Linked DNA regions of Homo sapiens. The protein of the gene in region 1 interacts with the protein of each later gene in a pairwise test. Each region holds a gene or a part of one and is shown on either strand. Other genes may lie near its edges.

Region 1 (6,483 bases):
AGGGTAAAGGCAACAAGCACAATGCCTGGCACACAGCTAGCTTTCGTCAAGTGTTGGCTTCCATCCTGCCTCAAACATGGCCTTTGTTTAGATTATCCCCTGTGCATGGAATGCCCCGCACCCCTCTCCTAGCCCCAGGTAAAATTCCCTTCAAGGCCTACCTCAAATGTCACTGTCATCAAGAAGGAGTTCCACAGGCAATTAGTTATCATCTCTATTCTCCCACAGCACCTGTTTTTACCTTAACTATAACACTTTTATTATTGTATTACAACTTAAGTCTCTGCAATCCAAAGTCTGGTCCTTGGACCATTAGCTGAGACTTCGTTTGAAATGCAGAATCTGGGCCCCATCCCAGACCTACAGAATCAGAATCCAAATTTTAACAAGATATCAGTGACTTATTTGCACATTAATCTTTCCCTGGTGGAACTGTGAGCCTTTCTAGGGCTCTCTTTTATTTCTGTCCCCAGAGCCCAACATAAGACTTGACACTTAAATGCTTTTTAAGTTTTATTTGCAATACTTATATGATAGATGTTTTTTAATTCCTGGAAAAATAAATACACATTATTAATAATAGTTATCTGGTAGATGGATAACGGTACATTTCTATGTAACATTTTCATTTTTTGTAATCAGAATGTATTACCTTTACAGATAGGCAAACACAAAGATTTGGGAAAATGCATGTAAAATCTAAGAAAAAAGGTAAATTGTAGATATAATACATTCACAAAAAGAATATAACTGTGTTGAGCTATATTTACAGATATAAAAAGATGAACAAATTACATTAGGTTTTTTAAAAAAAGACAACCTAACAGTATGTATCGATGATAGCACGTTTGTTCTTTAAAAAAATTTGTGAATTGGTCAGGAGCAGTGGCTCATGCCTGTATTTCCAATATTTTGGGAGGCTATGGTGGGAGGATCCCTTGAGCTCAGGAGTGAGCTGGGCAATATAGTGAGACCCTATCTATATTAAAAGAAAAAATTTGTAAATAGACACTGAAAAGGTATCTATCAAAATATCTCTAATGAAGTTTGTTTTACAATTTTCTACATTTTACATTTTTTCTAGTTTTCCTATGATCTTTATAAAAGCTTATCACTTATAAGAAAAAAAGTTATTTTCATTTTTGAAAAATATCTATACCCTTTACTAAGTCCCTTTACATTCAATGACCAAGATTCCCACAACACTCTGGGAAGCTGAAAGATCTGAAAGTAACACGGCCATTACATAGATGAAGGCAGCAGACCTTGGAAATGTAACCCCGATGGACTGACTCTGGGCTGGCATTCTCCCACCCCTGCGGCTACTCCAGACTCAGAGGAATGTGGCAAGTCAGATGCCAGCTTTGGCCAAAAAAACTCCTGTCATTTTAGGAGTCTCACCATGCCCAGTTACTTCCTCTGAGATGGTAACAGCAATAGGGGAACACTTCAAAGACAAAGCATTCAGAATGATTCATGCTGCACCACCTCCCCCTGGTGGCAGGTTCTGGAAATTGGCTTGAGGATAACTATTGCAATTGGTCAAAATTTTTAAAATATATTTTCTGTCAAAATCACCCTTATTTCTTTAAATCATCAAAACCACTTTTTCTTTTGTCAAGGATTCAGGTATTGACAAAAGACACAAAACCAGGACCTGGTGTCAACCAGACAATGCTTTGGATGATGCCAAGGGCAGTGTGGCTCTTTGCCTCTTGTCCTTGCTTCCCCACCTCTTTAGGTCCACAATAGAGGAAAGACACTATGTTCTTCAGCACCGTCTTTCCTGTTGTCTCTCTAGCTCCATCCACTTCCCTGAGCCTCAGAAAAGGGCAAGGCATGGCTCACATACTCTCAGCCACGGCCTGGCATGCTGCAGCTCCAAAATCAGACATCTAGGCGCTAATCCTCCCCAAGACCCAGTCCTAAGGTTCAAGGCACTGATGTTTCAAATATGTCAGACTGAAATACTGACGTTTCTTTAGAAACATCAGGGTTCAGAATGTCAGTCTTCAACTGTGGTACCCGTGGTCTCCAGATACGCATAGCTTCCTTACTCTTCCAGGAAGAAGGAAACATTCAATAGGATATCTGAAATAGGAAGACAGAAAAAATGGCATTATCACCTCTCCCGAGAACATAAAACACACAGAGGCACAGCAAGGGCACCTTCCTAATGCTTCCAAAGAGGCGAGCCACAGGGAGAGAAAGGAGGAGAGGAGACACAAAGGAAGAACACAAACCAGTACCTTGTACAAGATCTTGGTGTTCGTCTTTTGAAATTCGGTCCCAGGCCTTGGGCAAAGCTTGTATGTTTGCCAAGTCTCCCCACTGGATAGACGAAAGAAGATACTTTCTCTTCAGGTACCTTTCTGGAAGTTAAGGACTGCTCAAAAGAAAATGCAGTATGCTGAAGTGAAAAAAAACACCCTGGTGAGAACCAGAGGGAGCCATAAAAGTGAAAGTGCAGATATCCTTACATTTTACCAGGTGGGCCTGATTCACCTATGCTACAAATATTTCCTGAGCAACTGTTTACTAACATGGCTTTGTGCTACAGGGAAAGAGGAATGAAACCATCCCTGAAATCTGGGATCTCAGCATGGTGAGGACAAAATCAGATCCTGAAAAGAAAGAACAAAAGGGACATGAGAGGTAAAGCTAGCGGAGGTTCAGAGGATAAATACATCCAATTCAGAGGAAGCAGGGACACCCCAGCTGGTAGGAAACATGAACAAAGGCACAGAGGTGGAGATGCATAGAATGAATTCAGGGAAAGCAAATCTTCCAGTCTGCTCAGCATGGACGCCACATGGAGAGCAGTCAGAAAGGCTGAAAGGTGGGCTGAGCCAGAACAGAAAGAACACCAAGTACCAACGCAGGGCTCTGAACTTTATCCCATTAGCAACAGGAGCTATTCCTATACAGTACAGAACAATTCTGATCCTAACTATCAGGATCAGAACCAGACTTCCTGCAGATATAGAGGTCATTCATTGGAGTCAGCTTAGAAGGAAAGAAACTAGACAGAGAAAACTGTCAAGAGGCAATTAAGAGTCCAAGTGAGAGCTAAGAAGCCATGTAAGCAACAGAGGGGATGGGGACAGAGAGGGAAAATCAAAGAAGCACCAGGGAAACAGAAGGAAAGGACTTGACAAGTGACTGTGTAAACATTCTAGCACATAGCAAGTGCTTAGTAATGTCAGCCGCAGCTCTTGCTCCTTCTGCCCATGCTCCTGTTGCTGTTACTACTACTGCTACCAATGCATTTAAAAGGGAAAATAAGCCGGGCGCGGTGGCTCGAGCCTGTAATCTCAGCACTTTGGGAGGCCTGAGGTCAGGAGTTTCAGATCAGCCTAGCCAACATGGTGAAACCGCCTCTCTACTAAAAGTACAAAAATTAGCCAGGCGTGGTGGCAGGTGTCTGTAATCTCAGCTACTTGGGAGGCTGAGGCAGGAGAATTGCTTGAACTCGGGAGGTGGAGGTTGCAGTGAGCCAAGATCGTGCCATTGCACCCCAGTCTGGGCAACAAGAGCAAAACTCTGTCTCAAAAAATAAATAAATAAAAGAGAAAACAGGGTGGGTTCTACGACTCAAGGAAAAGGGGGCTGAATTTGAGGGCTAGATTGAGGAGTTCAATTTTAAACTTGAGTTTGCAGTTCTAAGAACAATCCAGTTGGAGGCATCTGCAGGAAACCAAAAGTCAAGACCAGAGACAAGAAAAGTTGGGGTTTGGGAATTATTCACATGAAGGCAGAAACCTAAGCTAGAGGCTAAAATCAGGTGTCAGACAAGAATTGAGAGAAGACCAGGCATGGTGGCTCACACCGGTACTCTTAGCACTTTGGGAAGCCAAGGAGGTAGGATCATCAAGGCCAGGAGTTCAAGACCAGCCTGGTCAACACAGCAAGACCCCATCTCCTAGGCAAAAAAAAAATTTTTTTGAGAGAAAAATGTTAGAGCTTCAACTAACTGGTCTTTCTGCTTTTACCCTTGCCCCCACTACCCCAAATCTTACCCTAGAACGAAGCCAGAATGATACTGTTAAAAACATAGGTCTTATCCTGTTACTCCTTAATCAAGTTTCTAAGAGGTTTTTCTGTCACTCGAATGCTTTTTTTTGGGGGGGGGGGGTGGGCGGGGGGTGGTTTGAGACAGGGTCTTGCTCTGTCACCTAGGCTGGTGATCACACCCAGGCTGGCAATCAAGGCTCACTGCAGCCTTGACCTCCCACGCTCAAGCAACCCTCCCACCTCAGCCTCCTGAGTAGCTGGGACTATAGCTGCACACCATCATGCCTGGCCCAAAATTCTTTTTTTTTTTTTTGGAGACAGAGTTTCACTTTATCACCCAGGCTGGAGTGCAGTGGCACGATCTCAGCTCACTGCAGCCTTGACCTCCCCCAGTTCAAGCAATCCTCCAGCTTCACCCTCCCGAGTAGCTGGGATTACAGACTTCAGGCACATACCACCATGCCTGGCTAATTTTTGTATTTTTTGTAGAGACGGCGTTTCACCATGTTGCCCAGGCTGGTCTCAAACTCTCGGGCTCAAGCAGTCCTCCCACCTCAGCTTCCCAAAGGGCTGGGATTACAGGTGTGAGCCACCACGCCCAGACCCCAAATTCTTTCAAAGACCTTCAAGGCCCTAGAAAGTCGAGCCCCCTGTCTTTCTACCCTCACCTGCTGTTAGGCTCCTCCTCATGCTCCAGTCTAGCCTCCTTACTATTTCCTGAATAGACCAGGAATGTTCTTACCACAAGGCCTTTGCATTTGATGTTTCCTCTGCCTAGTAACTTTCTCTCCCCAAATAGCCACATAGCTCTTTCCCTTACCCTCTTCAGATCTCTGCTCAAATATCACTTTCTCATGAAGCCTGCTCTGACCACCCTATTTTAAATCACAACTCCACCCTCACTCCTCACTTTCCCTGCTTTATTTTTCTCCATAACACTTATCGCCATTCAGCATTCTACTTGCCTTTTTCAATGCCTGTCTCTTTGCACCAAGAACAGTGCCTGACAGGTAGTAGCTACTCGATAAATTATTAGAGGAAGGATTATACAAAGGAATGCAGGAAGAATCCAAGTTCAGGAACCAAAGAGAACTGACTCAAACTACTTAGTTTTCCAATCTTGTGAAAACTGAAATTTGAAAGACTTAGAACAGCTCTGGCTGTGACCTGAAATGTGTGCAAAGGATACGACTTTCGATAATGTCTCTCAATATCCTGCAACCATTCCAACATGTCAGCCACAGAGGGGCTCACTGCTGAAGGCTGCAGGACAGCATCAATGCCAACTGTGTCTGCGTGTTGCTCATAGATCTGAAACACTCGCTCCACATGGCTGCTGACCATGTCTCGCACCTTGAGGAGGATGGCTCTGCAAGAAAGAGTCTGACATTAGGCAATATCATGAGACATGTATAAAGGAAGGTTTCTCAATTTTGGCACTACTGATATTTTGGACTACATGATTCTCTGTTGTGAAGGGCTGCCCTGTACATTGTAGGACGTGTAGGAGCATGCCTGGCCCCTACCCACTAAATGACAGGTGTAAACTATACCTATACCCTCCATAAGCCATAACAACCAATAATGCCTCTAGATGATGCCAAATGTCCCCTCATAGAAAAACCATCTCCAATTGAGACCACTGGTCTAAGGAGATTAGTGACAGTGTCTTGGAGGTACGGGTGGCTCAAGAATCAAGAAAGGGGCTGGGTGCAGAGGCTGTTGCCTGTAATCCCAGCTTTGGGAGGCTGAGCGGGGTGGATCACCTGAGGTCAGGAGTTTGAGACCAGCCAATGTCCCAAAACCCCGTCTCTACTAAATATACAAAAATTAGCCAGGTGTGGTGGTGCACACCTGTAGACCCAGCTACTCGGGAGGCACGAGAATCACTTGAACCCAGAGGCAGAGGTTGCAGTGAGCCAAGTTCGCGTCACTGCACTTCAACCTGGGTGACAGAGCGAGACTCCGTCTCAAAAGTGTGTGTGTGTGTGTGTGTGTGTGTGTGTGTGTGTGTGTGTGTGTGTGTGTATAGTTTTTGTTTTTGTTTTTTGTTTTTTTATTGAGATGGAGTTTCGTTCTTGTCGCCCAGGCTGGAGTGCAATGGTGCGATCTTGGCTCACCACAACCTCTGGCTCCCGGGTTCAAGTGATTCTCCTGCCTCAGCCTCCTGAGTAGCTGGGATTACAGGCATGCGCCACCACACCCGGCTAATTTTGTATTTTTTTTTCAGTAGAGACGGGGTTTCTCCATGTTGGTCAGGCTGGTCTCGAACTCCCGACCTCAGGTGATCCACCTACCTCGGCCTCCCAAAGTGTTAGGATTACAGGCATGAGCCACCGTGCCCAGCTAATATATATTTTTTTTTAATTAAAACATTTAAAAAAAAAAACAGGTGCAGTGGCATGCCTGTAATCCCAGTAGTTTGGGAGGGCAAGGCCAGAGGACAGCTTGAAGCCAGGAATTTGAGAC
Region 2 (7,862 bases), on another chromosome or scaffold:
TAGAAGGGGCTGAAGCAATGTCGTGCCTGATCCTACCATAGAGAGGATAAAGGGGAGGAATGAGGGATGGGGATCATTTCAGACACTGATAATTCAAGCAGTTAAGCTGGATCACAAAGTAATATATGCTGCTTTCAAAATGTCTAGTTCATGATTCATTATTGCTTATTATGAGGACTTAGAGTTTCAATCTGTAGAAGTTTCAATAAAATACAGATCTTAGAGATCATGCAGTCAAGCCAATTCATTTTACAGATGAGCATCACAGGTCCCAGACCACACACGCCTTCAGATAAAAACAGGGTCGCAGAGGTGGTGACCAGGCCGGAGTTGGTGGATTCCCCTGGCTCCTGCACTATGGGGGCGCTAGATCTGTCACATTCCTTGCCCCTTTACAAATAGTTTTGGGAGCAAATCCCCAGGAATGTTTCTTGTGGATTCACATGTATCAAGGATACTCATTTCCACACCAAAGGCATTGATGCCCCACCTGGCACATAACAGCCACTCAATAAATGTGTTAGATGAATGAATGAATGAATGTGTAAGTGTGAATGACCTCAAAGGTGAGTGATGCTGCCTAAACCAAGGTCATCGAAACTGGCCCTTAGGGCACCATTCCCTGAAGCCACCCGTGCCATCATCTTTATTCACAGCCAAGCAGCTGGCCCCAGAGCTTTGTGTCTTGCTCTTCCCCAGATATCTCAGTGAAAAGCCTTTGATTCAATTTTCACTCCCTCTCTTATAGCTCTCTTGCTCTAGGACTCCACTGGGGGTCCGAGAGCTGTTCTTCCTCTGCTATTTCCTGTTGTTCTTGAATAAAACAAATGCCCCTTCAACTTTGCTTCTCCATGGGACATGTTGTTCTCTGAGAGGCTCCTTGATCCTGCAAGTAATTAGGTCTGGAAGGGAGGGTGTCCTATTGGCCCTCCAGACTGGTTCAGACATGTCTAGACCCAGCTTAAATTACCTTGTCTGTTACACAAGGATGGTAACATGTTGGAAAGAAAATGAGACAAGCACTTTGCTGCTGTCTGGTAGAGCAGGTGGGGCTCCTGTTTAACATTTGCTGATCTCCACTTAAGAGCAGAACATCATCAGCCTTAGTCGCCATGCTGAAATGGGCTCTGTCACTTGGATAGCGTTTGTCAGTTGAAAGCTTTCTCTCCATAAACATCAACAGACTGGAAACCCAGTGAAAACTTTGTTTTTAATATTTAAAAATTAAGTCTCCACATGCACTCTGGGACAGAGGGGCAATAAATTACAACTTGCTATGTGCCAGAGATTATACTAATTGTATATCTGATTAAATTCTCACAACAGCCTTAAGAGGGTTTTGTAATCCTCATCTGCAGATGAAAAGTGGAGGAGGAGAGAGTAAGTGGCTTGCCTGAGTAAGGGCCAAGACGGAATTCAAACCCAGATTTTTGATGTCACAAAGCTAGTATCCTGGCGGGGCGTGGTGGCTCATGCCTGTAATCCCAGCACTTTGGGAGGCCGAGGCAGGTGGATCACTTGAGGTCAGGAATTTGAGACCCACCTGGCCAATGTGGATAAACCCTGTCTCTACTAAAAATACAAAAATTAGCCGGGCGTGGAGGCAGGCGCCTGTTATCCCAGCTACGAGGGAGGCTGAGGCAGTAGACTTGCTTGAACCCAGGAGGCTGAGGTTGCAGCGAGCTGAGATCACGCCCTGCTGCACTCCAGCCTGGGTGACAGGAACAAGACTCTGTCAAAACAAAACAAAAAAAAAAGCTAGTATCCTTCTCTTAGTGTTGCCCCCTGCAGAGGAACTGTTTTTTTTTTTTTTTCTTTTAAAGCACCCTACATCACATAATGTCAGCTGGACTTTTCTGTGATATTAACACTGGGATCCTGTAAAACACTATATTCTGACCATAGTCTGACACTCTGCATAATGAACAATTAGCCGGGAAAACATAGTATTTGAACCTCCTTTGCAGAGAGGAAATTCTCACAACTCCAAAGCAATAGTCAGCCCACAGTCAATGCCATCTCATCACCCAGCCCAAGGCTCGGCCTAAAACCTTCTAGAGGGTCTCACTCTAAAGATAACCCAAAGGTCTCACAGCTTCCTGGTTGCAAAAACGACAACAGGAGCAGGAATTGAGACCTAAAGATCATTTGGGTAGAAATGAGGAAAGAAATGACATGTTAAATGATGATTTTTCCCTAACTTGCCTTGTTCTTTCTAGATGTGGCTCAAGAACTTGCAGAGTTATGGTGGGATAATTCGACTGATCAAATGCTGAAAGTTTTCCTATCGACTTCAAGGCTGTTCAAATCTCTATGTACTTTGAAGTCTGAGGCACAAGATAATTTCCCAGAGATTCATGTTTCTATCGATGCTAGGCTGGGCTGACACAGATAACCCCTCAAGAGGCCTTTCCGAACTGCTGTATAAACTGTCCTGGGTCCAGCAATAAAGCAACTGTGTCATTATAGTTCTCTGCCCTTCAGAAGATCTGATCTTAATACCCTTCTCTTCTTTTTGTCCCTCTGATTTCATCAAATTTGTTGCCATTCTGGGTGTTTCTCCTTCTCTCCCCGACTTTTTCTACTTCAGATCAAAGAACTTCCCCTTTTTCCCACTTTTGGATTTGCGCCCTGGAGGACAACGCAAGGTTAACTTCCCTCCCACCTCCTCTTGTAGGCACACAGGGTGCCCCTTAGCCAGCGAAATCTCCGCGCCCGAGATCCTCTCACAATTTCAGGCTGGTGAATTGTAGTAGGAGACATGGTTTAGTTTGATGTGGTTAAGTCAGTCATCATGGCATCTTCGTACCCTCAGCCCCAAACCGCTCTCCTACTCATCACCCTCACTTTCATTTCTTTGGATTATCTTTCATCGGCTTACCACCAGCCTTCACAGCCTCACCCAAGGCTGAAGCAGGGCTAGCAGGGTGGTGCGTTTCCTTCCCTGGTTGAGCTGGTGACTGCTGTGGGTAAGCAGGTCCAATGTGAACTCAATTTTACATTGAGAAAGAGAAAGCAAGAGTGAGTGGGCTGCTAAGACTGTTGCTTCATGGTTTCCCCTAAGCCCCAGAAATAGAAAGGCAGACTTCCGACTGGCAGAGCCCGTATGCTAACCACCAGACCACACTGCCAGATAAGAAAAATGTTCGATTGTGTCATACTTCCCTCATTGGCTCCAGTGTCTGAAAATGGCCCTGAATTTCAGAGAGTCTTACCATGACCCAGGGATTTAGAGAGGATCGAAGAGGGAGGACAAAGGAATCAGGCACCTTCTCTCTCTCTTTTCTGGGGTAAATTTATTTTCAACCACAAAAGTAAAGGAAAGAAAAAGTCACAACAGATGAGTTATGAGCTAACTTTCTGATTTGCACATGTAAGAGAAAGAAATGAACTGGATATCATTAGACATTGAGAAAGGGAGTCTGCAAGCTAGCAATGTATCTTCGGCCTTTTTGATTTACACGTGTTTATTTATGAGTACCTACTGTGTGCCAGGCATGATGCTTGGTGCTGCCAATTCAAAGAGAAATAAGACACCTCCTTGCAAAGTGAGAAGGCAGAACTAGATTCAGATTCACCTAGATTTCAACTCTTGTGCTCAGGCCACCACCACCACCATGGAAACAATTTTGCTTGACTCTCCCGGCGCAGCCGCGGCAGGCGTGTGTGTTGTCAGACACTGCAGGAAGAGTGATGGCCTGGGTGTTGACAGGCTCCTAATTGGAAGGTAGGAGGTGCCACCAGAGATCAGCTATAAAAGATATCTTTGGACTGGGGTGGGCTGCTAATGCTTGGAAGAGACTTGTGGGTGAGGCCCGGTGAGCTGTCACCTCGGAATTGGGCCTTGCCCAGCAGACAGACATGCATGCGGGGGAGGTAGCTGACAGACAGGGGCGCATGGGGAAGCAGCCATTCCAGAGAACTGCAACAGCAGATTGCAAACCAGGACTTCAGGACTCAGAGGGGGACAAGGAAAGGAGAGCCTATAGTGGCCCCAAAGCCCAGGGTCAGAGGCAGGGCCAGGAGAGCAGCTGACAAGAGCTTTATGGTAAGGACAAAAGAGAAGACAGCCGGAGTCTCCTTTTATTCAGCTCATAAAGACCCAACTTCTGTGCACTTATAACTGTTCAGACCCTGAGGGGTTCAAAAAAAGAACCGTGTTAGGAGAATTCAATATTTAATTAAGAGATGATCAGATCCGTGCACCGAAATTATTGCTGGGTAAGACAATACTGTGTGTGTTACATAGCATTGGAACTTAGGAAAGCTCTTTCCTTGTGTTGTTTAATTTAATCCACTCAACAACCCTGCAAAGTGGGTACCATTGTCCCTGTTTTTTATGAATGAGGGGGTGAGGTGCTGAGAAGCTGTGTACGTTATTTGAGTTTGTCTGGCTAGTCAGTGGCTGAGCCAAGTTCCAATCCAGGTCATGTGAGCCTCTGAACTTTCTGATAAAACCTGCAGACCCCCTTAACTGGGATAATATAGTCATGCATTAAGCAAGAAGGAGAAGTAAATACAGGCTGATGGTGTAGGGGAGAAATTCAAAGGGAGAAGGCCTAGGAGGGAGAGGGAGCTATGTGTGAACAGAACCAAAGATGGCCTCTGGGAATTGGAAGGTCTCTTGGAATTCGTCCAAACTGAGGATCACAAGTCTCCACATTCTGAGTAGGAGGATGAGGGTCTGAGTTAGGATTTGGGTCCTGCAGGGCTTGCTAAGGAATCCCCTGATGGCCTAGGATTCCACGCAGAGCACATCTGGTGTGAGAGAGCTCGCTGCAAGGGTGAAGGCTCCGCCCTATCAGATAGACAACCAGGCCACCAAGAGGCCCAGCCCTCCAAACCCTGGATTTGCAACATCCTCAAAGAACAGCAACGGGCCTTGAGCAGAATTGAGAAGGAAATACCCCCACCTGCCCTCAGCCGTTAAGTGGGCTTTGCTATTCACAAGGGCCTCTGGGTGTCCTGGCAGAGAGGGGAGATGGCACAGGCACCAGGTGCTAGGGTGCCAGGGCCTCCCGAGAAGGAACAGGTGCAAAGCAGGCAATTAGCCCAGAAGGTATCCGTGGGGCAGGCAGCCTAGATCTGATGGGGGAAGCCACCAGGATTACATCATCTGCTGGTGAGTAGGCTTCATTAATTCTCTGATGAATGGACGATTGCAAGGGAACTTTTTTCATCTTCAAGGAGCCAGAAGAAGTGGTGATTAAATTGGTCTTTTAAAATAAAAAGACTCCAAAGGGGTACAAGTCTTCAAGCTTCCCCTGTGGTGTTCCGGGCACTCTGGCTTCTCTTTCGGAGGGAGGAAGAGCATCTATTCATAGGCTGTGACTTGGAGAGGCCCCACGGTGAGTCAGGCGCTTGCTGTGTGAGCCGCTGGTTGCTAATGTCTTCGGGAACTGCTAATTTACCCATCTAATTTGTTCCTGTACACTGGCCACAAAGGGAGACCACTCAATTATTCTGATCCAAAAGAGAGGCTTGTGTTTACCATGATCTCCCCAGCAACTGTGTGAGTGTGTGTGCATGTGTGTGTGTGTGTGTGTGTGTGTGTGTGTGTGTGTGTGTGTTTGCCTAACAACCTTAGGCAATGACGAAGAGGTGGGGCTGCTGCCCTTGTTAGCATTTTCAAACACATTCCAGTTCTGAGTTGAGGGCAAAGATTGTAATGGGGTGCTTCAGAGAAGCCTTGGCTCCCAAGGAGGTTATAACTTCAAAGGGTGTTTTTGAAAAACCAAGGCGGATGAGGAAAGTGGCTACAAGTTCCTTCCATCACAGAGGATCAATGAAGGGGAACAAAGATTTGGGAGCATCTACTTTGTGCCAGGTACTGTGCTTGGGTTTTACACGTCTTCTCTTGTTGACTTTGCATAACTCCCCTTTGAAGCAGATATTACTCCAGGTTCTTGCCGTAATGTTTCAGCTTAAAGAAAACCAACCCATACTTCTTTAGGTTGCCCTGAAAAGGTGAATCTTCTGTGAAGCCTTTTCTGTCTTTATCTGTTAAAATTAATTAAGCTCTTGTTTGTGCTCCCAGAAAATCACTTTAGACCTTAGAAAGATGGCAGCCTCAGTTTTCTCATTTGTAATATAGGGGTACCCATAGGGTCATTGTGAGAAATAATAGAAATAAATCATGGAAGTGCTTGGATAGTAGCTGGTACTTAGCCCTCATCAGTCATCATTGTCATTGTTGTTAAGAGTAATAATAATAATAATATCACTTATTATAATTACTCACCTCTAGGTTTTTAAAAAACTTACAGGCCGGGCACATTGGCTAACGCCTGTAATCTTAGCACTTTGGGAGGCCAAGGCAGGCAGATCGCCTGAGGTCAGCAGTTCAAGACCAGCTTGGGCAACATGGTGAAACCCTGTCTCTACTAAAAATATGAAAATTAGCCACGCGTGGTGGCTCATCCCTGTAATCCCAGCTACTCGGGAGGCTGAGAGAGGAGAATTGCTTGAACCCGGGAGGCGGAGGTTGCAGTGAGCCAAGATGGCACTATTGCACTCCAGCCTGGGTGACGAGAAACTCCATCTCATAAAAACAAAAACAAAAACAAAAAAACTTACATAAATTTATGGGGAACAAGTACAATTTTGTGACAAGCGTAAATTGCATAGTCTTGAAGTCAGGGCTTCTAAGGTATCTATCACCAGATTGATATCTATTGGTATCTATCACCAGATTGATATCTATTGATATCTATCACCAGATTGATATCACCACATTGTACCTATTAATTAATTTCTCATCATCCTCCCCCCACCCTTCTGAGTCTCCAGTGTATATTATTCCATACCCTAATGCCATGTGTTCACATTATTTAGCTCCCACTTATGAGTGAACAGTGTGATATTTGTCTTTCAGTGTCTGACTTTTTTAACTTAAGATAACAGCTTCCAGTTCTACCCATGTGGCTGCGAGAGACATGATTTCATTCTTTTTTATGGCTGAATAATATTCCATTGCATATATATACACCACAGTTTTAAATCCAATCATCCATTGATGGACACTTAGGTTGATTCCACATCTTTGCTATTGTGACTAGTGCTACGATAAACATACAAGTGCAGGTATCTAATTATTTCTTTTCCTTTGGATGGATACCCAGTAGTGGGATTGCTGGATTGAATGGTAGTTCTAATTTTAGTTCTCTGACAAATCTCCATACTGTTCTTCCTAGAGATTGTACTAATTTACATTCCCACCAACAGCGTATAAGAGTTTCCTTTTCTCCACATCGCCACTAGGTTGTAAGTTCCTTGAATGTAGGGATCATGTCTCTTTTCTTCATTGTTTTATAACAAGAGCCTAGGAGTGTTTGGCACATGGCAAGTACTTGTTTTCTAGCTGACAGATGAATGAACAAATGAGTGAAGGATGCTTCCTCCTCACTGCTGTGAGCTTCTGAGAATGGACCCTTGTCTGACCTGCTTCTGTATCTCTAGTGTGACTGCTTTGTCTGGCACAACAGAACTGCTCAGCGATTCTGTTGAACGGATGCTGCTGCCTGGCCCGTATCTGGCCTGGAGAGTCTGGCTGCGAGCTCATCTGTGCTCTGGTCTGGCTAAGGTTAGCTGCAGCCCTAGGAACTCAGAGAGTGTGTCCTGGACATTTCACCCCTAGTTGGTGAGCTCCTCAAGGGTAGGGACGGTGTCTTGTTTATTTTTAAATTCTTGGTGCCCAGTACAGTGCCTGGTACACAGGAGATGCTCAAATGGCTACCCCTAGCCTCTGAGGTCCCACTGCACTCAAAGAAGAGCAGAGCTCCAAATGACCTTGTCATCTTTCCCCTATTACCCAAACCTGTTCAATTTCCCCATTTCTGTTTATTAAAGATCCATTTTCTCAG
Region 3 (7,273 bases), on another chromosome or scaffold:
GCACTTTGGGAGGCCGAGGTGGGTGGATCATGAGGTCAGGAGATCGAGATCATCCTGGCTAACACAATGAAACCCCATCTCTTCTAAAAATACAAAAAATTAGCCGGCGTGGTGGCGGGCACCTGTAGTGCCAGCTACTCCAGAGGCTGAGGCGGGAGAATGGCGTTAGCCCGGGAAGCGGAGCTTGCAGTGAGCCAAGATCGCGCCACTGCACTCCAGCCTGGGCAACAGAGCGAGACTCCATCTCAAACAAACAAAAAAATTAGCTGGGCATGGTGGTGCACGTATGTAATCCCAGCTACTCAGGAGGCTGAGGCAGGAGAATCGGTTGAACCCAGGAGGGGGAGGTTGCAGTGAGCTGAGGTTGCGCCACTGCACTCCAGCCTAGGCTGCAGAGCGAGACTGACTCAAAAACAAAAAAGCACACAATGAGATATTATCGTACCTTAGTTAGAATGGCTGTTATTAAGAAGACAAAACATGACAGGTATTGGCAAGGATGCTAAGAGAAGGCAACTCTTGACTGGGCGCAGTGGCTCACGCCTGTAATCCCAGCATTTTGGGAGGCTGAGGTGGGTGGATCACCTGAGGTCGGGAGTTCAAGATCAGCCTGACCAACATGGAGAAACCTCATCTCTACTAAAAATGCAAAATTAGTCAGGAGTGGTGGCACGCGCCTGTAATCCCAGCTACTTGGGAGGCTGAGGCAGGAGAATCGCTTGAACCCTGGTGGCAGAAGTTGTGGTGAGCCAAGATTGTGCCATTGCACTCCAGCCTGGGCAACAAGAGTGAAACTCCTTCTCCAAAAAAAAAAAGAAAAAAAAAGAGAAGGGAACTCCTACACACTGTTGGTGGGAACGTAAGTTAGTACAGCCACTACTGAAAACAATATGGAGATGTCTGAAAAAAACAAAAACAGAACTACCATGTGGGCTGGGCATGGTGACTCACACCTGTAATCCCAGCACTTTGGGAGGCCAAGGCTGGTCGATCACCAGAGGTCAGAAGTTCACAATAGCCTAGCCAACATGGCAAAACCCCTTCTCTACTAAAAATACAAAATTTAGCTGGGTGTGATGGAGGGTGCCTGTAATCCCAGCTACTTGTGAGGCTGAGGCAGGAAAATCACTTGAACCTGGGAGGCAGAGGCTGCAATGAGCCGAGACCAGGGCATTGCACTCCAACCTAGACAACAAAAGCAAAACTCCGTCTCAAAAAAAAAAAAAAAGAACTACCATGTGATCCAGCAATCCCACTACCTGGAATTTATCCAAAGGAAAAGAAATCAGTATATAAAAAAGATAACCTGCATCTCCGTGTTTACTGTAGAGCCGTGTTTACAATAGCAAAGATATGGAATCAACCTAAGTGTTGATCAGGGGACAAATGAATAAAGAAAATATGATATATATACACAGTGGACTTAAGCCATAAAAAATGAAATCATGTTTACAGCATGGATGGAACTGGAGGTCATTATGTTAAGTGAATAAGCCAGACACAGAAAGGCAAATATCACATGTCCTCACTTACATGTGGGAGCTAGAAAAGTTGATCTCATGGAGGTAGAGAGTAGAATGATACCAGAGATTGGAAGGGTGTACGTGGGTGGGAGAGGTGGATGAAGAGAAGTTGGGTAATGGGTACAAACATACACTTAGGAAGAAGGGATAACTTGTAATGTTCAATAGCAGAGTAGGGTGACTGTAGTTAACAAAGTACTGTAAATTTCCATAGCTAGAAGAGAGGACTTGAAATTTTCCCAACACATAGAAATGTTAAATACTCAAAGTGATTGATACCTTAAATATCCTGACTTGATTATTGTACATTCTATGTATGAAGAAAAGCAAAATATCACATGAACTCCATAAATATGTAAAAATTTTGTGTATCAATATATTTTTTGTTTTGTTTGTTTTTTTTTTTTTTAGATGGAGTCTTGCTCTGTCACACAGGCTGGAGTGCAATGGTGTGATCTTGGCTCACTGCAACCTCTGCCTCCTGAGTTCAAGCCATTCTTGTGCCTCAGCCTCCTGAGTAGCTGGGACTACAGGCGTCCGACTCCACACCCAGCTAATTTTTGTATTTTTAGTACAGACGGGGTTTTGCCATGTTGGCCAGGCTGGTCTCGAACTCCTGACCTCAGGTGATCCTCCCGCCTTGGCCTCCCAAAGTGTTGGGATTACAGGCACAAGCCACTGTGCCCAGCCCAATTTTTTTTTCTTTTTGAGACGGGGTCTCACTCTGTCACGCAGGTTGAAGTGCAGTGGCATGATCTTGCTCACTGCAACCTCTGCTTCCTGGGTTCAAGGAATTCTTGTGCCTCAGCCTCCTGAGTAGCTGGGACTACAGGTGTGCACCACCAGACCTGGCCAATTTTTGTATTTTTAGTAGAGATGGAGTTTCAGCATGTTGCCCATGCTGGTTTCTAACTTCTGGCCTAAAGCAATCTGCCCACCTCAGCCTCCCAAAGTGCTGAGATTACAGGTGTGAGCAACTGGGCTGGGCCTAAATTAAATATTTTCAAAATTTAAAAAATACTCATTTCTAAGGATATATTTTTCCTTATATAATTTCTACAGTATTCACCACATGGAGTGCAGTGAGGCAGTTCCAGAACTCAAGGTAATAATGTAAGCATATTAATAATATTTAATTATTAACAATTAATAATTAATCAATTAATAACATATGCATATGAGATCAGCAGGAGTCACACTAAAAGCCAAAAAGCATTTCAGGTGAAAAACAGCAAGGGTAGGCCAGAAAACACAAAGAAATCTTGACTGAAAAGTCAGCAATAAAAAACACTATTGAATAAAAAGGAAGGCTCGATATACTAGGGCTGGCAGGGGAGCCAAGCAAGTAGATCCAGAGCCAGAATGACAGCAGGGACCTGGTAGGCCTTGCTTGTTATCTCCAGCAACCAGCCCCACGCTTAGCAAACAGTATTCTGCATCCTGTATGATTGCAGGTATATTCCAAATGTGGGGATGAAGGCAACTAGTATTTACAGTCCAATGCCACCAGCCATGAGGATGACCCATCTTGGCTGAAAAATAAAGACCTTAAATCTAGGAAGCGGAAGATACAACCCAGGACAGCAGGAAGGGGAGACCCGGTATGAGAAGAACTGAGGCCCAACCCAGTTTAGAGAGGAGACTGAAGGCTAAAGGAGGAAGGTTTCCCAGGAAAAAAAAAATTAGGATTTGAAAGTTGATGCTATCTTTGATAATTTGGAACAACGTAAATAAGTAGAAATGGCAGGGCCGGGCGCCGTGGCTCACGCCTGTAATCCCAGCACTTTGGGAGGCTGAGGCGGGAGGATCACCTGAGGTCGGGAGTTCGAGACCAGCCTGACTTAATATGGAGAAACCCCGTCTCTACTAAAAATACAAAATTAGACGGGCATGGTGGCTCATGCCTGTAATCCCAGCTACTTGGGAGGCTGAGGCAGGAGAATCGCTTGAACCTGGGAGGCGAAGGTTGCGGTGAGCCTAGATAGCGCCATTGCACTCCAGCCTGGGCAAGCCGAGATAGCGCCATTGCACTCCAGCCTGGGCAACAAGAGTAAAACTCCTTCTCAAAGAAAAAGTAGAAATGGCTGGGAACCGTGGCGCATGCCTGTAATCACAGCACTTTGGGAGGCCGAGGCAGGAGAATTGCTTGAGGCCAGGAGTTCCAGACCAGCCTGGGCAACATAGCAAGACCCTGTCTCTGTTTTAAAATTTAAAAATTAGCCAAGCATTGGGTGTGCGCCTGTGGTCCCAGCTACTCGGGAGGCTGAGGTGAGAAGATCGCTTCAGCCCGGGAGGTCGAGTCTGCAGTGAGCTAGGATCGCACTGCTGGGCCACAGAGCAAGACCCTGTCTCAAAACAAACAAAAAATAAATTCATGTATGTTAGCAACAATTACTATTTAATTTAAAACTTCCCCATTCCGATTCCATCCTCACCAAGCACGTTCCTTCGCCTGCAGCTTCGGTCTAGAGCCTGAGCGAGCCGAGCTGCGGATGCCAGGGGCTGGGTGGACTCCGCAGCTAAGCTACTGTAAAACACGCACCTGCTTCTACCGCGGGTGTACACATGGTTTGCCAGGGTGTGCGCGTCTTCCCAAGGGGTCTGGGGACCAAATTCCAGCTCCCGCCATCGGGAGGCACGGTAAGAGACCGTAGGGGACACAATCCCGAGCACCGCAGATGCCGAGGTCTCCGCTGCGCTCCAGTCTGTCAACAGAGGCTTCAGGACCGCGGGGTCCCTTCAAATGCCCCGCCAGTCCCAGGCCAATCACCGCGCAGCTTCTTCCGGGATCGTCGCCAATCATCGGCCGTTGCGTATTGCGGGTACAGAGGGGTAAGTGAAGCTTCGGGCCCTTACATCTTTCTTGAAGGCAAGAAGCCTCTCCTCTACTTCCCAGACACCCCGCCTCCCCCACTAGAAAAAGCAGCCGAAGCGGCTTTATTTAAGGGCAAGTGGGACGATGAGGCCAGAGAAGTCAGAAAGGCTCCATATTTGATATGGTCAAATAATGGCGCCCTTAAGAGCAGCCTGTGACAATTGAAGGGTGGTCGCCATATTTTCAGAAGGCACCTTCCGGGTCCCTTAACCCGGGTGTCTATGTCCAAGCGGCCATGAAGTGAATAAACACTGAGGAATTATATTTGTCCCTATCAGAATCCTCGAATCCCTAGCAGCCAGTCCCTGCTACTTCGGTTGCCTCGGCTGCGTTCGGACGCCACGGCTGGGCGGGGCCGCCCTTCCTGTGGACAACGACAGCTGAGGCCGGGAGCGGGGAGGCGGCGGCTCCAGGGACCTGGCGGCCGCCGATCGGGGCTGCGAGGCCCCATGGCGCCGCCCCCAGCCCCGCTCCTGGCGCCGAGGCCCGGGGAGACCCGGCCTGGTTGCAGGAAGCCCGGGACTGTGAGCTTCGCGGACGTGGCCGTGTACTTCTCCCCGGAGGAGTGGGGCTGTCTGCGGCCCGCGCAGAGGGCTCTGTACCGGGACGTGATGCAGGAGACCTACGGCCACCTGGGCGCGCTCGGTGAGAGCCCCGGGTCCGAGCCCCCTCCTCCTTCACCGGGTTCACAGGGGAGATGATGTAGAAGGGCCGAGAGGACTGTGAGCCCTAATCCCGCACTCTTGCACCAACACCAGCAGCCACCTCCCGTTCCCAGGGCTTCAGGTACCCCCTCGGGAGTGTTTTCACCCGCATCCATTTCATTCAGGCAGCAGCACTGCAGCCCCTTCCAGGTTGAGTATAAGCTCCGAGGGGGTGCCCTCAGCCTGGAGGGGAATGCCATCTTCCCACGATGGCCTCTCAGGCCCGCGCTGTGATCCCTGTTCTCTCCCAGGATTCCCAGGCCCCAAACCAGCCCTCATCTCTTGGATGGAACAGGAGAGTGAGGCTTGGAGCCCCGCCGCCCAGGATCCTGAGAAGGGGGAAAGACTGGGAGGAGCTCGGAGAGGTGAGGGATAGTCCCGGGTCCCCCCACTTGGTTTTCCAGGGCTTCCTGTCTAGCAGAGTTTCTTTTCAGGCCCCCACTTCCAGCATCCCTAAAGAAATTCAACTGTGTTGGGTACTAGAGGAGTAAAGAAGGCAGACCTGGTACAAAGTTTTCAGAACATGGGACAGCGGTCCTGTGAGGACTGGGAGCCCAGTCCAACCAGGCACTCCAGCCTGGGTGACAGAGTGAGACTCCGTCTCAAAAATAAATAAATAAATAAATAAATAAATAAATAAATAAATAAATAATAGCCCCTGCTTCCTGAGCACTTCCTAAGTGCTTAACATGCATCTACTCAGCTAAACCAGTAACGCTGTGAAGTCAAAAGCCATTATTATTCCCATTTGATGCATAAGGAACCAAGGCTCAGATAAGGCACTTTTAGGAGATCTGAATCCTGTTTACCTTGTTCTAAAGCCTGTGTGTTAATCACTGGACAGAACTTCCCTCACTGCCTTAAGTGAAAAGCATTCTATAACCTGAGACAGTCTGTGCAAAAGTGTTTGTAAGTGTAACTTAATTCCGGTTTCCCAGGAGATGTCCCAAACAGGAAGGAAGAGGAACCGGAGGAAGTCCCAAGAGCCAAAGGGCCTAGAAAGGCTCCTGTGAAGGAGAGTCCTGAAGTGCTGGTGGAACGCAACCCTGACCCAGCTATTAGCGTGGCCCCGGCACGGGCACAGCCACCCAAAAATGCTGCCTGGGACCCGACCACAGGAGCACAGCCCCCGGCACCCATACCCAGCATGGATGCTCAGGCCGGCCAGCGGCGCCACGTGTGCACGGACTGCGGCCGCCGCTTCACCTACCCCTCACTGCTGGTCAGCCACAGGCGCATGCACTCGGGGGAGCGGCCTTTCCCCTGCCCCGAGTGTGGCATGCGCTTCAAGAGGAAGTTCGCAGTGGAAGCGCACCAGTGGATCCACCGCTCCTGCTCCGGGGGGCGGCGGGGCCGGAGGCCTGGGATCCGGGCTGTGCCTCGGGCCCCCGTCCGAGGTGACCGGGACCCGCCTGTGCTCTTCCGGCACTACCCAGACATCTTCGAGGAGTGCGGCTGAGCGGCACCGCAGGCTGGAGTTGAGCCTGACCTTGGCACGAAGGACTGACGGATCCCTGAGGTGGGCCACTGAGTCGGGGACTCCGGAACTGAAATTCATGCCCTGGGCTTTCCTCAAGGATCCCTCAAGTTTCCAACTTGTAAAAAGAAAAGTGCCTGTAAAGATTCGAATAGATTAGACTTGCCACCCATCTCCCCAGTCTTTTGTTTAACAAAAAAAAAAAAAAAAAAAAAAAAAAAGAAGAGAGTGAGACCCTGGACTCATTTCAAAGTGTTATCTGAAGATCAGGTGCAACAGAGACCTTTATATCATCTCAGGAACTAGCCACTCCTTATCTATTTCAGATGCAGATGCTGAGGGGGACCAGGGCCTGGGGAGGGGACCTACATGGAGGGCGTGGTCAAACCCTGGCTAATTGTCATCAGCAGGGGACCCAGACACTGGAGTGGATGGGAGTAGAATAGATGCAGGTGGCACAAATCCAGCCTCTGTTGGGAGACCAAGGAGGGAGGATCGTTTGAGTCCAGGAGTTCAGACCAGCCTGAGCAACAGGCTATCTAGCGATATCTAGATATCTAGGATATCACTATCTAGAGATAGTGAAATCCTATCTCTACAAAAAAAAAAAAAAAAAATGAACCAGGCATAGTGGCACATCGTGCCTGTGGTCCCAGCCACTTGGGAGGCTGAGGTGGGAGGACTGCTTGAGCCC

The links.
Region 2: the proteins of AIRIM (region 1) and LMO2 interact in binary tests that used the Homo sapiens proteins (3 or more experiments, as listed by UniProt).
Region 3: the proteins of AIRIM (region 1) and ZNF688 interact in binary tests that used the Homo sapiens proteins (3 or more experiments, as listed by UniProt).

What each region holds. Positions count from the first base shown.
Region 1 is NC_000001.11:37,681,070-37,687,552, forward strand, and holds the end of AIRIM (AFG2-interacting ribosome maturation factor), read right to left. Parts: intron 5,384-6,483; coding exon 5,204-5,383; intron 2,373-5,203; coding exon of another isoform or gene 2,369-2,372; coding exon 2,250-2,368; intron 2,092-2,249; coding exon 2,054-2,091; coding exon of another isoform or gene 2,013-2,053; 3' UTR 501-2,012; downstream 1-500. UniProt on the Homo sapiens protein: Part of the 55LCC heterohexameric ATPase complex which is chromatin-associated and promotes replisome proteostasis to maintain replication fork progression and genome stability.
Region 2 is NC_000011.10:33,889,055-33,896,916, reverse strand, and holds the start of LMO2 (rhombotin-2), read left to right. Parts: upstream 1-4,840; 5' UTR 4,841-5,122; intron 5,123-7,862. UniProt on the Homo sapiens protein: Acts with TAL1/SCL to regulate red blood cell development. Also acts with LDB1 to maintain erythroid precursors in an immature state.
Region 3 is NC_000016.10:30,569,204-30,576,476, reverse strand, and holds ZNF688 (zinc finger protein 688), read left to right. Parts: upstream 1-4,762; 5' UTR 4,763-4,847; coding exon 4,848-5,043; intron 5,044-5,049; exon of another isoform or gene 5,050-5,252; intron 5,253-5,353; coding exon 5,354-5,467; intron 5,468-6,040; coding exon 6,041-6,561; 3' UTR 6,562-6,751; downstream 6,752-7,273. UniProt on the Homo sapiens protein: May be involved in transcriptional regulation.